Linked DNA regions of Homo sapiens: region 2 is linked to region 1. A link means that fine-mapping ties the variant in region 1 to the expression of a gene that starts in the linked region. Tissue or cell type: nucleus accumbens. Region 1 holds a variant in brackets; the other region holds the start of a gene. All regions are shown on one strand. Distances are from middle to middle. Region 1 overlaps ANO7 (anoctamin 7). Region 2 holds the start of ANO7 (anoctamin 7).

Region 1 (5,356 bases):
TGAGAGAGACCGATATGAAAAGACTGATAACCCTATGGTTTCGTAATTTTACTGCTGAGATTTGCTCCAACATTAGGAGACTATGATGCTTTTCAAGTTTATTGAAACACATGCAAAACTTCATTGTAACCAGATCACAAAGGAAGTCTCCACAACTGCGGGTGAAGTACATCTACCTGCTCTGCAGGTTCTATTATGGTATGAGGCCACCACTTCTCCTGTTGTCCTTCCCAGTTTCTCCCCAACCTCCCCTTTTCCCTAGTTTATAAGACAGGAGAAAAGGAAGAAAGCAAAAAGCTGGAAAGAAACAGAAGATAAATAGCTAGATGACCTTGGCGCCACCACCTGGCCCTGGCGGTTAAAATAACAATAATATTAACCCCTGACCAAAACTACTGGTGTTATGTGTGAATTCCAGACGCTGTATGAGAAAGCACCGTAAAACTTTTTGTACCGTTAGCTGATGTATGTAGCCCACAGTCACGTTCCTCACGCTTACTTGATCTATTATGACTCTTTCACGTAGACCCTTAGAGTTGTAAGCCCTTCAAAGGGCTAAGAATTTCTTTTTCGGCGAGCTCCGCTCTGAAGACACGAGTCTGCCGACGCCCCCGGCCGAATAAAAAAACCTCTTCCTTCTTTAATCCGGTGTCTGAGGAGTTCTGTCTGCGACTCGTCCTGCTACACTATGACCAACTAGCAATTCACCTAGAATCCACGATTTGCCCTCCAGCCCCGCAAAGCTCCGTCCCTTACCGCGGGGAACCTCCCCCCAGCCCCTGCCCACGGCGCCCCCAGCTCCCCCCCTCCCCCGGCCTTGCCCGGCGGCGCCCGCCCCTCCCGGCTCCCCACCGCCGCACCCCCACCCCACCCGAGCCCCGCTCCGCCTCGTCCTCGTGCGCCCGCGGCCCCCTCCACCTGGCGCGGGGCTCACCTGCACGTGCGGTTGTGCGCGGCGGCGAAGGAGGACGGGGCTCGCGCCAGCGTGAAGTTGAGGAAGCCGCGCAGGTCGTGGGCGCGGGTCCACCGGTAGTAGGCGCGCGGCAGGAAGTCGGACGAGAAGGCCAGGAGGAAGGCCTGGGCGCCGGAGGGGTCAGCGCGAGGCGGCCCCCGCTCCGCCCCTGCGCGCCCCCGCTCCGCCCCTGCGCGCCCCCGCTGCCCCCCCGCCCCGCCCCTGCGCGCCCCCGCTCCGCCCCTGCGCGCCCCCGCTGCCCCCCCCGCCCCGCCCCTGCGCGCCCCCGCTGCCCCCCGCCCCTGCCCGCCCCCGCCGCCCCCCCGCCCCGCCCCTACGAGCCCCCGATGCCCCCAGCCCCGCCCCTGCGCGCCCCCGCTGCCCCCGGCCCGCCCCTGCGCGCCCCCGCTGCCCCCCCCGCCCCCGCCCCTGCGCGCCCCCGCCCCGCCCCGCGCTCCCGCCCGGGCCTCACGTTGCTGATGACCGCCAGGTGCGTGAGGCCCGCCAGGATGTGGAACCAGATGCCGATGTCCTGGGCGCGCTCGGCCACCGGGCGCCGGTACTCGCAGACGAACTTGCGCGCGTCCAAGCGGATCTCCACCCAGTTGTTGAGCAGGGCGAAGAGCGGCGCGAGCGGACAGGCGGCCACGAAGATGGTGACGAAGCCGAACTGCAGCACTGCGGGGAGGGGGTCACGGCCGGGCTCTCCGCCACCGTCCGCCCTCAGCCCTCGGAACGCGCCCCCCGCGGAGGACCGGCCAGTCCACGTGGTGCCGCCACCCCATCGCGGCTCATTCCGCCCCCACCTCCTGGTCTCCCTCGTCCTGGACCGCGCAGCGCCAGGGCCGCCTCTCCTGACCGGCCTCAGGCCGGCTGTCCTGCCCTGCGCTCCGTGCTTCTGGCTGGTCACGGGCCTTCTCCGGCTCGGTGAGCTCAGGAACTAACTCAGGGCAGGCGTTGGGGCAGAAACCTGCTCCTGATTTTACAACCAGCTTCTCCAGTCACCCCACAGGGGAGCTGTTAGGAGAGGGCTCTTTGGAAGGGGCTTCTGGGTCTTCGCCGAGAATTACTAGTGAGATCATTGGGGTCCAGGGTTCAGTGGAGGAGGGTCAGGGCGTCCACTCCTCGCCCTGGGAACTGGCCTGCTCCCTTTCCACAGATGCCGCGGCTACGCTGGGGAGCTCCGGGGCCTGCCGGCTCACATGCCCGCTTGCTAGGTTAAGAGCTGCCTGCCGGGCACAGTTTCTCACGCCTGTAATCCCCAGCACTTTGGGAGGCTGAGGCAGGTGGATCACCTGAGGTCAGGAGTTCGAGACCAGCCTGGCCAACACGGTGAAACTCCGCCTCTACTAAAAATACAAAATTAGCCGGGCGTGGTGGTGGGCGCCTGTAATCCCAGCTACTCGGGAGGCTGAGGCAGGAGAATTGCTTGAACCTGGGAGGTGGAGGTTGGAGTGAGCCGAGATGGCGCCACTGCACTCCAGCCTGGGCGACAGAGGGAGACTCCGTCTCAAAAAACAAAACAAAAACAAACAAACAAACTGCCTGATGATTCCTTCTCCCTTTTGTCAGCTCAGAGTCAGACCCTGCACTGCAGGGACGGCACAGGTGATACAGACCCACCCTCCAGAGTGCACCACCCGTGCAGGCAGTGAGCCCCTGGCACTGGCCACCACCTGGTAAGGTGACAGTGGTAGGTCTGCAAATAGCGTGGGCATTGAGATTTCTGGGAACATTGGCTCTCCAGGCCGCTGCCTCCCACTGTGGCTTCACCCTTGGAGGACTTCTGTCAGCCCCCAGGGCCTGCTCTCCTAATTCTTCCCTTGCTCTGGCCCATGCTTTCTAGGTCCAGGGACCCCAGGGGAGCTCTGCAACGGCC[G/C]CGGGGGCCTCCTCCCCGTGCCGGTGCCCCTCTGTCCTCAGCCAACCCTCTTGGGCACTCTCAGGGGAAAAGAATTCCTTTCTGGATTCTCCACAGGCCCGACCCTCTGTTCCCACCCCACCCCCACAGCACATTTCAGGGCAGATGCAGACACAGGAATGTCAGGCTGGGAGGCCCTTGAGCAGAGTGGCCACCCATCCCTGCCCACGGCGCCAGCCATTGCCGCAGCTGCTAACGGGCTCCTACCCATTTCCAGGTACTCGTCAAACAGACCCTCACAGGGCACAAGCTCATAGTCGTCCTCCCAGGGCCCCTGGCTAGCCCCTGCAGAAGCTCCCGCCTTCCTCTTCTTGGAGCGAAGCCGGAACTTCTGCCACCAGCCCTTTAGCTTCCTGGGGACGGGAATACAGGAAAATGGCCTTTGATCCAACATGGGTCTCAGTGGCTGCTATAGTCCTTGGGGGAGATGTGGCCGGGACAAGCCTGTTGCTTTGCAATTGAAGGGCAGCAGGGAGGGATGGGGTCTGGGGCTGAGGGGTGGACGCAGTGAGAGCCAACAGCTTTGCAGATCGGACTCAGTGAAAGCGTCTGTGTCTGTTGGTCAGATGTGGGAGGGCAGTCCACCCGCCCAGCCCCCCGCATTGTTCCTTAAGGCTTTAGGGGTAATGGGCTCCTCCCGGAATTGCAAAGCAGTGCCAAGAGCTCTGCCAAGGTTGGGAGGGAGTGGACGAGGACGACTGTGGTGTCCCAGGGAAAGCAGATGTGGAGGCCCACGTGTTGGGTTCGTCCTACACAGGGGCATGTGTGCATGTTGCCTTATCACACTGTCACTCATCCGTGCCCTGCTCCTGCCAGGCACAGAGCTCCACCCTGCACCTTATGGTCTTGTGGTTTCACAGCACCAATAGTTCCAAGAGGCAGGGCCATCTCTCGGGATGTGGCATGGCCACCATCTCCCAACTGCTATTCCTGGTGGCCCAGAAATGTCAGTGCTGATTTGGGAGCTGCCTTCTGGGGGCAGATCAGGTGTTCAGGGGGCGCTGGGAGGGCGTTCAGGTCAGTCTGGCCTTGAGCGGGAGGCGAGGCCCTGGGCAGCCTCTTTGAAGGACTCTGGCTATGGGAGCCTTGTGGTCAGGGTGTCCCTGGCAGGGGCATCTGAGGCAGACGTGTGTCTGAGGATCAACCCTGGGACCTCCTTTTCCTCCTCCCTCTTGTGCTGCGTTGGGGCCTGGGGATGCCAAGGAATACTCTGGCCCAGCCGCAGCATCTCTGAACGGACAGAGCCATCACCCCAGCCTTGGGTCCAGGAGCCCAGACCCCCTCCCCAGCCAAAGCTGGTCCCAGGGGTAGCGTCTCCCACAACTACAACCCAGAAGACCTCAGCCAGCCACAGGGCAGCTGCAGGGCGGGCAGCCCAGAGCCCGGGGCAGACGGCCGGGCACACTCCCCCTCCCCCTCCCCAGGCAAGGTGCCTTCCCTTCACCTCTTCTCCCAGCTAGGGCCGGGCTGGAGGCTGCTACTGCCAGGTGCTCTGGGGTCCCTCGGTCCTTGGATGCCACCCAGGGAGGAGTGGGGGACTCACGGGATGAGGACCTCCTGCATGTTGTTGATGACCTGCTTGCCCACCATGATGACCAGGAGCTCCTGTGCCAGCTCGATCAGGCAGCCTCCAGCCGCGCACTACGGCAGCAGGGCTCAGGTTAGCTGGGAGAGGGGGACCAGCCACTCACCCACGCATCCCTTCTTGTCTCAAAGCTGGCCCTCATCCCGGCCCCCACCTCCCTCCTGACATGCCTTGGGCACCTGGAGGGTTGCAGAGATGCTCCCACCATAACACTCCCTCCCGACCTCACAGGAGCCCCCAGGTCCAGCTGGAAGACTGCATTGGAAAGCTGCAGGGGGCACTGCTATATGTACCTAATGGCACCCCAGTTTTCCTTTGGAGACCCACAAGGGGTTACATGGGGCTGACTGTAGCCTCTGGCTTCAAGACAGACCCACGAGGCAGGCCCCACCAATCGGTGACCCAGTTCGAGCCAGTGGGAGGTGGAGTTCCTGGGAACACGTGCCTTGCAAGGGGTGCTAAGTCCGAGAGTGTCGGCCGCACTGCAGGGCACCTTCCCTCCAGATGGGGATAATCTTTCTGAGAACACAGGCAATGCTGGGAATAGCAGTGCAGCATTTTTAACACCTGGATCATTCATACCTAAGCCCGCGTAGCCCTGAGCGTTTTCAGTACAGGAGCCAAGAAAACTCCCTGCAGCCTCCACCTCCTGGGTTCAAGCAATTCTTCTGCCTCAGCCTCCCGAGTAGCTGAGACTACAGGTGCGTGCCATCACGCCTGGCCAATTTTTGCATTTTTAGTAGAGACGGGATTTCACCATATTGGCCAGGCTATTCTCGAACTCCTGACCTCATGATCCACCTGCCTTGGCCTCCCAAAGTGCTGGGATTACAGGCATGAGCCACCACGCCTGGCCGAAAACTCCCTTTTTCGTTTAAGCCAGTTTGAGTTGGGAACTTTT
Region 2 (5,356 bases), 27 kb after region 1:
TATCTCCCCGGGGCCCCCATCCCGTGCTCGTGGGCGCTCACCCAGGGAAGACATACTGGCTTTTACGGGAACTCTGTGCTGAATTCTCTGAGGAACTGCTGTTTTCCTTAGCAGCTGTACCATTTTACACTCCCTCCAGCAATGCACAAGTGAGCCAGTTTCCGCTCATCCTCATCAACACTTGTGATTTTTTTTAAGTAGTAGCCATCCTAGTGGGAGGAGGTTAGGGTCTCTCTGGTGCTGAGGGGACAGCAGGGTGGGCGGGGTGGGTGCTGGGAGCCCGGCTGGTGCTGGTGCAATCCCCTGGAGTCGGTGGTAGCTCCGGGCAGACAGAGGCAGTGGGTTGGGGGTGGATCAAAGAGATTTTGAAGGTACAAAAGGGGTGGAGTGCAAGAGATAAGAGTCAGAAATGACCTGAGTTGTGGCTGAACAGCTGGAGGATGGTGGAGGGGACTGGAGCAGGAGGGAGGGGGCAGCCCTGTCCACTCTCCAGAGCCCTTCCGGCCCCACCCCATCAGTAGGGAGCCCCCTTTCCTGCTGTTCTTCCCACTGTGGTTTGCTCACCCCGAGGCCCTCACCCCAGTGCCCCATCCCCAAGCAACTGGCCCCAGAGTGGCTACTGAGGAGGCTACCCCAGCCTGCTGCCCCTGGGGGCACCCCCGTGGTGTCCCCACCCTCAGGACCAACACGGGTGTGGTACAGGTGCTGGGAGGGGCTCACCGATCCGGGGCTTGGCAGGACTCCCAGCTCTGCAGGCGGCCGCTTGCTGTCCACCTGGCTGGAAGGCATGGAGGATGGAGAAGCATATCAGCATCAGCATCTGCCCTCGACAACTACACCCACCCCGCCCCACCCTGAAGCCGTCCTCGCCTCCAACCCGTCCCCGCCCTGCCCCAGAACACTCAGGACCACAGAAGAATGTTCGGCGGGTGGGTAGGGGGTGGAGGGGGAAGCCCCTCTGCTGTGTGGGGGCACAGGATGCGCAGGCGCGGGGAGCGGCAGGCAGGGCCAGAGGGCACCACCAGCCCTGGGCCTCCAGCCGGCTCCCCTCCTCCTTGGGCCAGGCCCATGGCAAGGGTCAGGTTGGCGGGAAGCATGGCCAGGACCAGGGGTGCCTGCCTTGCTGGCCTCCAGGGGCAGAGGGGAGCCGGACTGCTCCCAAAGGGGCCCTGAGGACAGAGTTGGCCATGGCGACCGAGAGTGTCTGGATGCTTGAGGTGAGAGGCCCTGTGCCCTCCCTGGAGGCTCATCTCAGCTGTGCTTGGGGCGGCAGGAAGGGGTCCCGTGTCCACCCGCAGGCTGCTGGGGCAGACGTGTGGCCCAGGAGAACCAGGAAGAGGGCCCTCCACGGCCAGGGCCTCCCGCATGGCCTTGAAGGCCCGGGACCCAGCCTCTCCCCACAGGCTCACAGCGCATCCATGGCCTCCTAGTGACAAGGTGGAGCCCTACAGATGGCCCTGGGTGCTGCTGTGGCCCTGCACTGACTGGGACTGACACCACAGGGAGGGCCCCGCCCTGGTCTTGCCTTTGCCTGGCCAGGCCCCCCTTACCCTCCTGGAGCTCCTGTCTGAACATCAGTGGGTTCTGCTCGGTTCTCCACAGCCAGGCCAGGCCAGGAGAGCGGTGATCTGACTGTGTGTGTTGAGGACTGGGTGGCGAGGGCTTGGGGGTTGCCGGGGGATGCAGGAGAAACACGGTGATGCCCATCCACCCCCAGAGGCTCTGGGCCCAGGGTGGGGGCATAGACCCAGGCAGGGGAGGACCTCTCAAGTCGCACCACAGTCTCCTGGGTGCTGTTACCTCCGAGGCGTGGGCTGTGCTCCCGTAAGAGCCCCTCTTCTCTGCCTCAGGGGGGCTCACATCGATCAGGACGGTGCTGTCCTCTTCCTGGGCCCGTCGCCGCAGCATCCTGCTCCTGCACCCAGCAAGGCCGGGTGGGGATGGGGGTCAGAGAGGGGATGGGTGAGACCCGTTCCTGGGGCCACCACACTGCCTGCAGTGAGCTCACTTTACAGACTCGACTCGGAGTAGAATGGGGCTGGGCTGGCTCGGCAGACTCTCCTGGCCATGAGCACATGGAGAACCCCCTAGCCAGCCACGAGCTCCAGGAAGAAACCAGTGCCGGGGCGGGAGCGTCTGGCAGGCCTGGCACAGCAGGCGTCTGTCTGTCCATCCAGTGAGTGCCCGTGTCCCCCAGCCCTGAATGCCGTCCACTCTGCCTGGGTACTCAGTGGAGCCTGAGAAGGCCCAGAAAGGTGGGCCTGGAGTACAGACACCTCTCCCTCTCTTATCCGTAGGGTGGAGCCATGTGAGCCAGGGACAGGAAACCCCTCAAGTCGCCTGCCTTCGCTCATGGCCTGAGGACCCAGTGCCAGGACCCATAGGCCCTGAGCTCCCCAGCAAGGCGGGCCTGATGGAGCCCGGCCTCACAACTCTTGGGGGTCCCAGCTTCCTCCCGCACCTTCGCCCCGGGGGTCTCTCTCTGTGGGAGGACAGGTGCCGTGGCTCCTAGTCTTGGGCTGGCAAAACGGGGCCAGGAGCACGACATCTGTGGCCCTGGAAGGAGAGGGTTCGAGCTGGGGCTGGCATTTGGAGCTGCGACGATGACCGGAGGGTGTGACCATGGAGGCGCCGCAGGAGGTCGGAGGGGCAGCCTTCTAGTTCTACCCTTCACTTCACATTAGCGGAGGCCCAGAGGGACAGAGACTGAGCCTGGGCCGCCTGCACCTGCCTAACCCTGAAGCCCGAGCCAGGTCTCAGTGTTAGGACTCGGCCCCGGCCCCAGGCTGGGAGCCTCACTACGGACTGTGGGGTGTTCCTGGAGGAAAGTCCCCGAGGAGTTTCGGCCACCCAGCAGCCCCTCATGCCCCCATCCTTCTGTGGTGGGCAGGCGGGCCCCTCCTCAGAGCTCTCTGCAGAAAGAATGGGGATGCCCCCCACCCCAACGAAGGGACCTGCTCCATGGGGGAGCCCCTGGGCAGGCAGGAAGCCAACCCCAGCTGGGTGTACCCCGTCCAGAGCCGCACTGAGTGTGTGTCCCTCCTCGTGCCCCAAGGGGCTTTGGGGACCAGGGCGGGCCCTGGCACTGCCTCCCCACAGGCCAGGGTGTGTGAAAGTCCCGGTGGGCTGGGGTGCCGCCCTGCCTCCCTAGAGTCCAACGCTCCACCTTCTCCCTGTGGCCCACACGTCTAGGCTGGGTCCCCACCTGGCACAGTGGCTTCCGGAAGAGGTCTCGGAGGTCATGGCCCACCTCTCAGCGTGAGCCTGGTCTCGGCAGTAGAGTCCCGTCCTCACTGCGGGACAGAGGGTGGGGAGGGGTGGCCCTTGGAGCCCCGCCCAGGCAGTGGCAGCCATTCGCATGCCCTCACCTTGCCTGCAAGTGGGCCAGGAAGCAGGCAGGGGAGGTGCCCAGCACAGCTGGCCAGGGCAAGGCTTCCCGGCTCCTGGAGCAGGATCTATCTTTGTTTAAATAGGGGGTGTGGGGCTCAGAGCTGCAGACAGAGGCAGCCCACTTGGCTGGGCTTTCACACACCCGCATGCAAATGCTGCCGTCCTCCTGGGAACCTTATTTGCTTAGAGATTTCAGGGCTGGCATCAGCTGTCATAGTTGCTGCCTTGGAGGGTCTCGAGGAGGTGGGATTCCACAGGAACAGCCACAAGTGCCACCTCTGCTGGAAGCCTTGCCAGGCAGACCTCGTAAGCTCTGTTTATGTGGGGGGAAACTGAGGCTCCTTGAGGTTACGTAGCATGTGCTGAGTGGTGGGCCAGGGTTTCACCCGGGGGCTGGGGAGATTGGGAGACCCAGATCACACTGCTGGCTCTGCTAATGCCTGAGGGGTGACCTCAGGCACATCCCATGCTCAGGGCCCCATCTGCAAAAGGACAGGAGGGGTCCTAGCCTTCCTCCCATCCTTTCCGCCCTCCTCCTCGTCCTCATTCTCCTCCTAGCCCTCCTCTTTCTCCTCCTAGCCCTCCTCCCCCTCCTCCTTTCTCCCCCTCCTCCTATCCTTTCTCCCCACCTTCCCTCTCCTCCTTCTCCTCCTATTGTTTCTCCCCCCTACTCCTCCCTCTCCTTCTCCTCCTATCCGTTCTCCCCTCTCCCTCTCCTCCTATCATTTCTCCCCCCAACTCCTCCTCCTCCTCCTCTTTCTCCCCACTCCCCCTCCTCCTATCGTTTCTCCCCCTCCCCCCCACTTCTCCCTCTCCTCTTCCTTCTCCTCCTTTCTCCCCACTCCCCTCCTCCTGTTTCTCCCCCTCCCCCCACTTCTCCCTCTCCTCCTCCTTCTCCTCCTATCCTTTCTCCCCGCCCCTCCTCTTCCCCTCTCCCTCCCCCTCCCCCTTTCCTCCTTGGTGCCTGGCAGTGTCTGAGAACCTACCACCCGTGCTCCTCGCCCTCCATGCACAACTGCACTGGGGAGCCCCAAGCTCAGCTTGCTGTTCCAGGTGCCCCCTTCTGCCTGTTGAAATCCCTCCAGGCGGACCCTCATCCTGGCTGCAGCTTTCCCTTATACCTATGCCCCTCTGTGCTTGGCACCTCCCAAGGGGCCCTGTTCTTGGACCTGTGTTGTGCCTCGGAACAGCGGGAAGGCCCTGCAGGCCGGGTTCCCTGTCAGCACCAGCAGAGCCTGGGCGGCAGGACCTTGGGGCCCTGGGCCTCAGGGCATCTGCATGAGAGGTCTCTGCTTGGCCAAGCTCAGCCTGCAGGCGCCTGAGGTGGATCCCTGGACGAGGGCTGGACTGGGGAAGTGCTCCAGAAACCAGGAAAGGAGTCGGGAGGCAGGAGGGGAGGGAGGATGAGCGGGGCACCATCTCCCCAAGACCTGTGGAGGGTGGCCTCAGCCTGCCATGGGCACTCTGCAGGGGAGGCAAGACGAAGCGTTTCCTCACCTGGATGCAACTGTAGGCTCTTACTCTGCTCAGTCATTGGCCAAGGACCCTCCCAGGAAGACATGCCACCTCCCAGGAGCTCCTGGCTCTCTGCTCTTGGTGACAAAGTGGCTCTGGTGGCCTCAGGGCTGTCTACTCAAGAGCTTCAGGGCCGGCTGCTGGAGGTGACCACACCCCAGTGGGAGCCCTTTCAGCGACAGTGCACGCACAACACCTAAAGGGGGTTCGGCCCTGAGGAGTGTCTTTCCATTTTTACTTCATACAACTCTGTTTGGGTGGGTGGTTTTTTCAAGTTGTGTTACTTCTGAGGGAAAGGAAGGAAGGGAGGGAGGGAGAAAAGCCGCAACCAGCACAGGGGGCCCGCCAGGTTCCAGGCCTTGGGAAGAGCCCAGGCCCAGAATCTGCTGCACCATCTTTCTTTGGCTGTAACATTTTTTTTTTTGAGACGGAGTCTCGCTCTGTCGCCCAG

What was found. PIP is the estimated chance that this variant, and not a neighbour inherited with it, causes the effect.
Region 2: ANO7 starts here. The variant in region 1 is fine-mapped to the expression of ANO7 in nucleus accumbens (GTEx, PIP 0.94). The same link has a PIP of 0.9 or more in prefrontal cortex.

Annotation. Positions count from the first base shown.
Region 1 is chr2:241,213,960-241,219,315 of GRCh38, reverse strand. It overlaps ANO7 (anoctamin 7), which reads right to left. Exons shown (of 25, transcript NM_001370694.2): 18 at 4,414-4,511; 19 at 3,078-3,223; 20 at 1,425-1,630; 21 at 935-1,077. Among named protein-coding and RNA genes, the nearest start is that of ANO7, 28 kb to the right of the region's middle. RefSeq lists enhancers at 280-379, 2,487-3,018 and a silencer at 1,723-1,852. The variant G/C (reference allele first, on the strand shown) is at 2,832.
Region 2 is chr2:241,186,616-241,191,971 of GRCh38, reverse strand. ANO7 (anoctamin 7) reads right to left here and starts at 3,295. Exons shown (of 25, transcript NM_001370694.2): 1 at 3,206-3,295; 2 at 1,801-1,915; 3 at 721-778. The coding sequence starts at 1,908. LOC105373971 (a long non-coding RNA gene) reads left to right here and starts at 3,550. Exons shown (of 3, transcript XR_924064.3): 1 at 3,550-3,696. RefSeq lists enhancers at 722-1,222, 1,223-1,723, 2,657-3,340, 3,341-4,025, 5,221-5,356.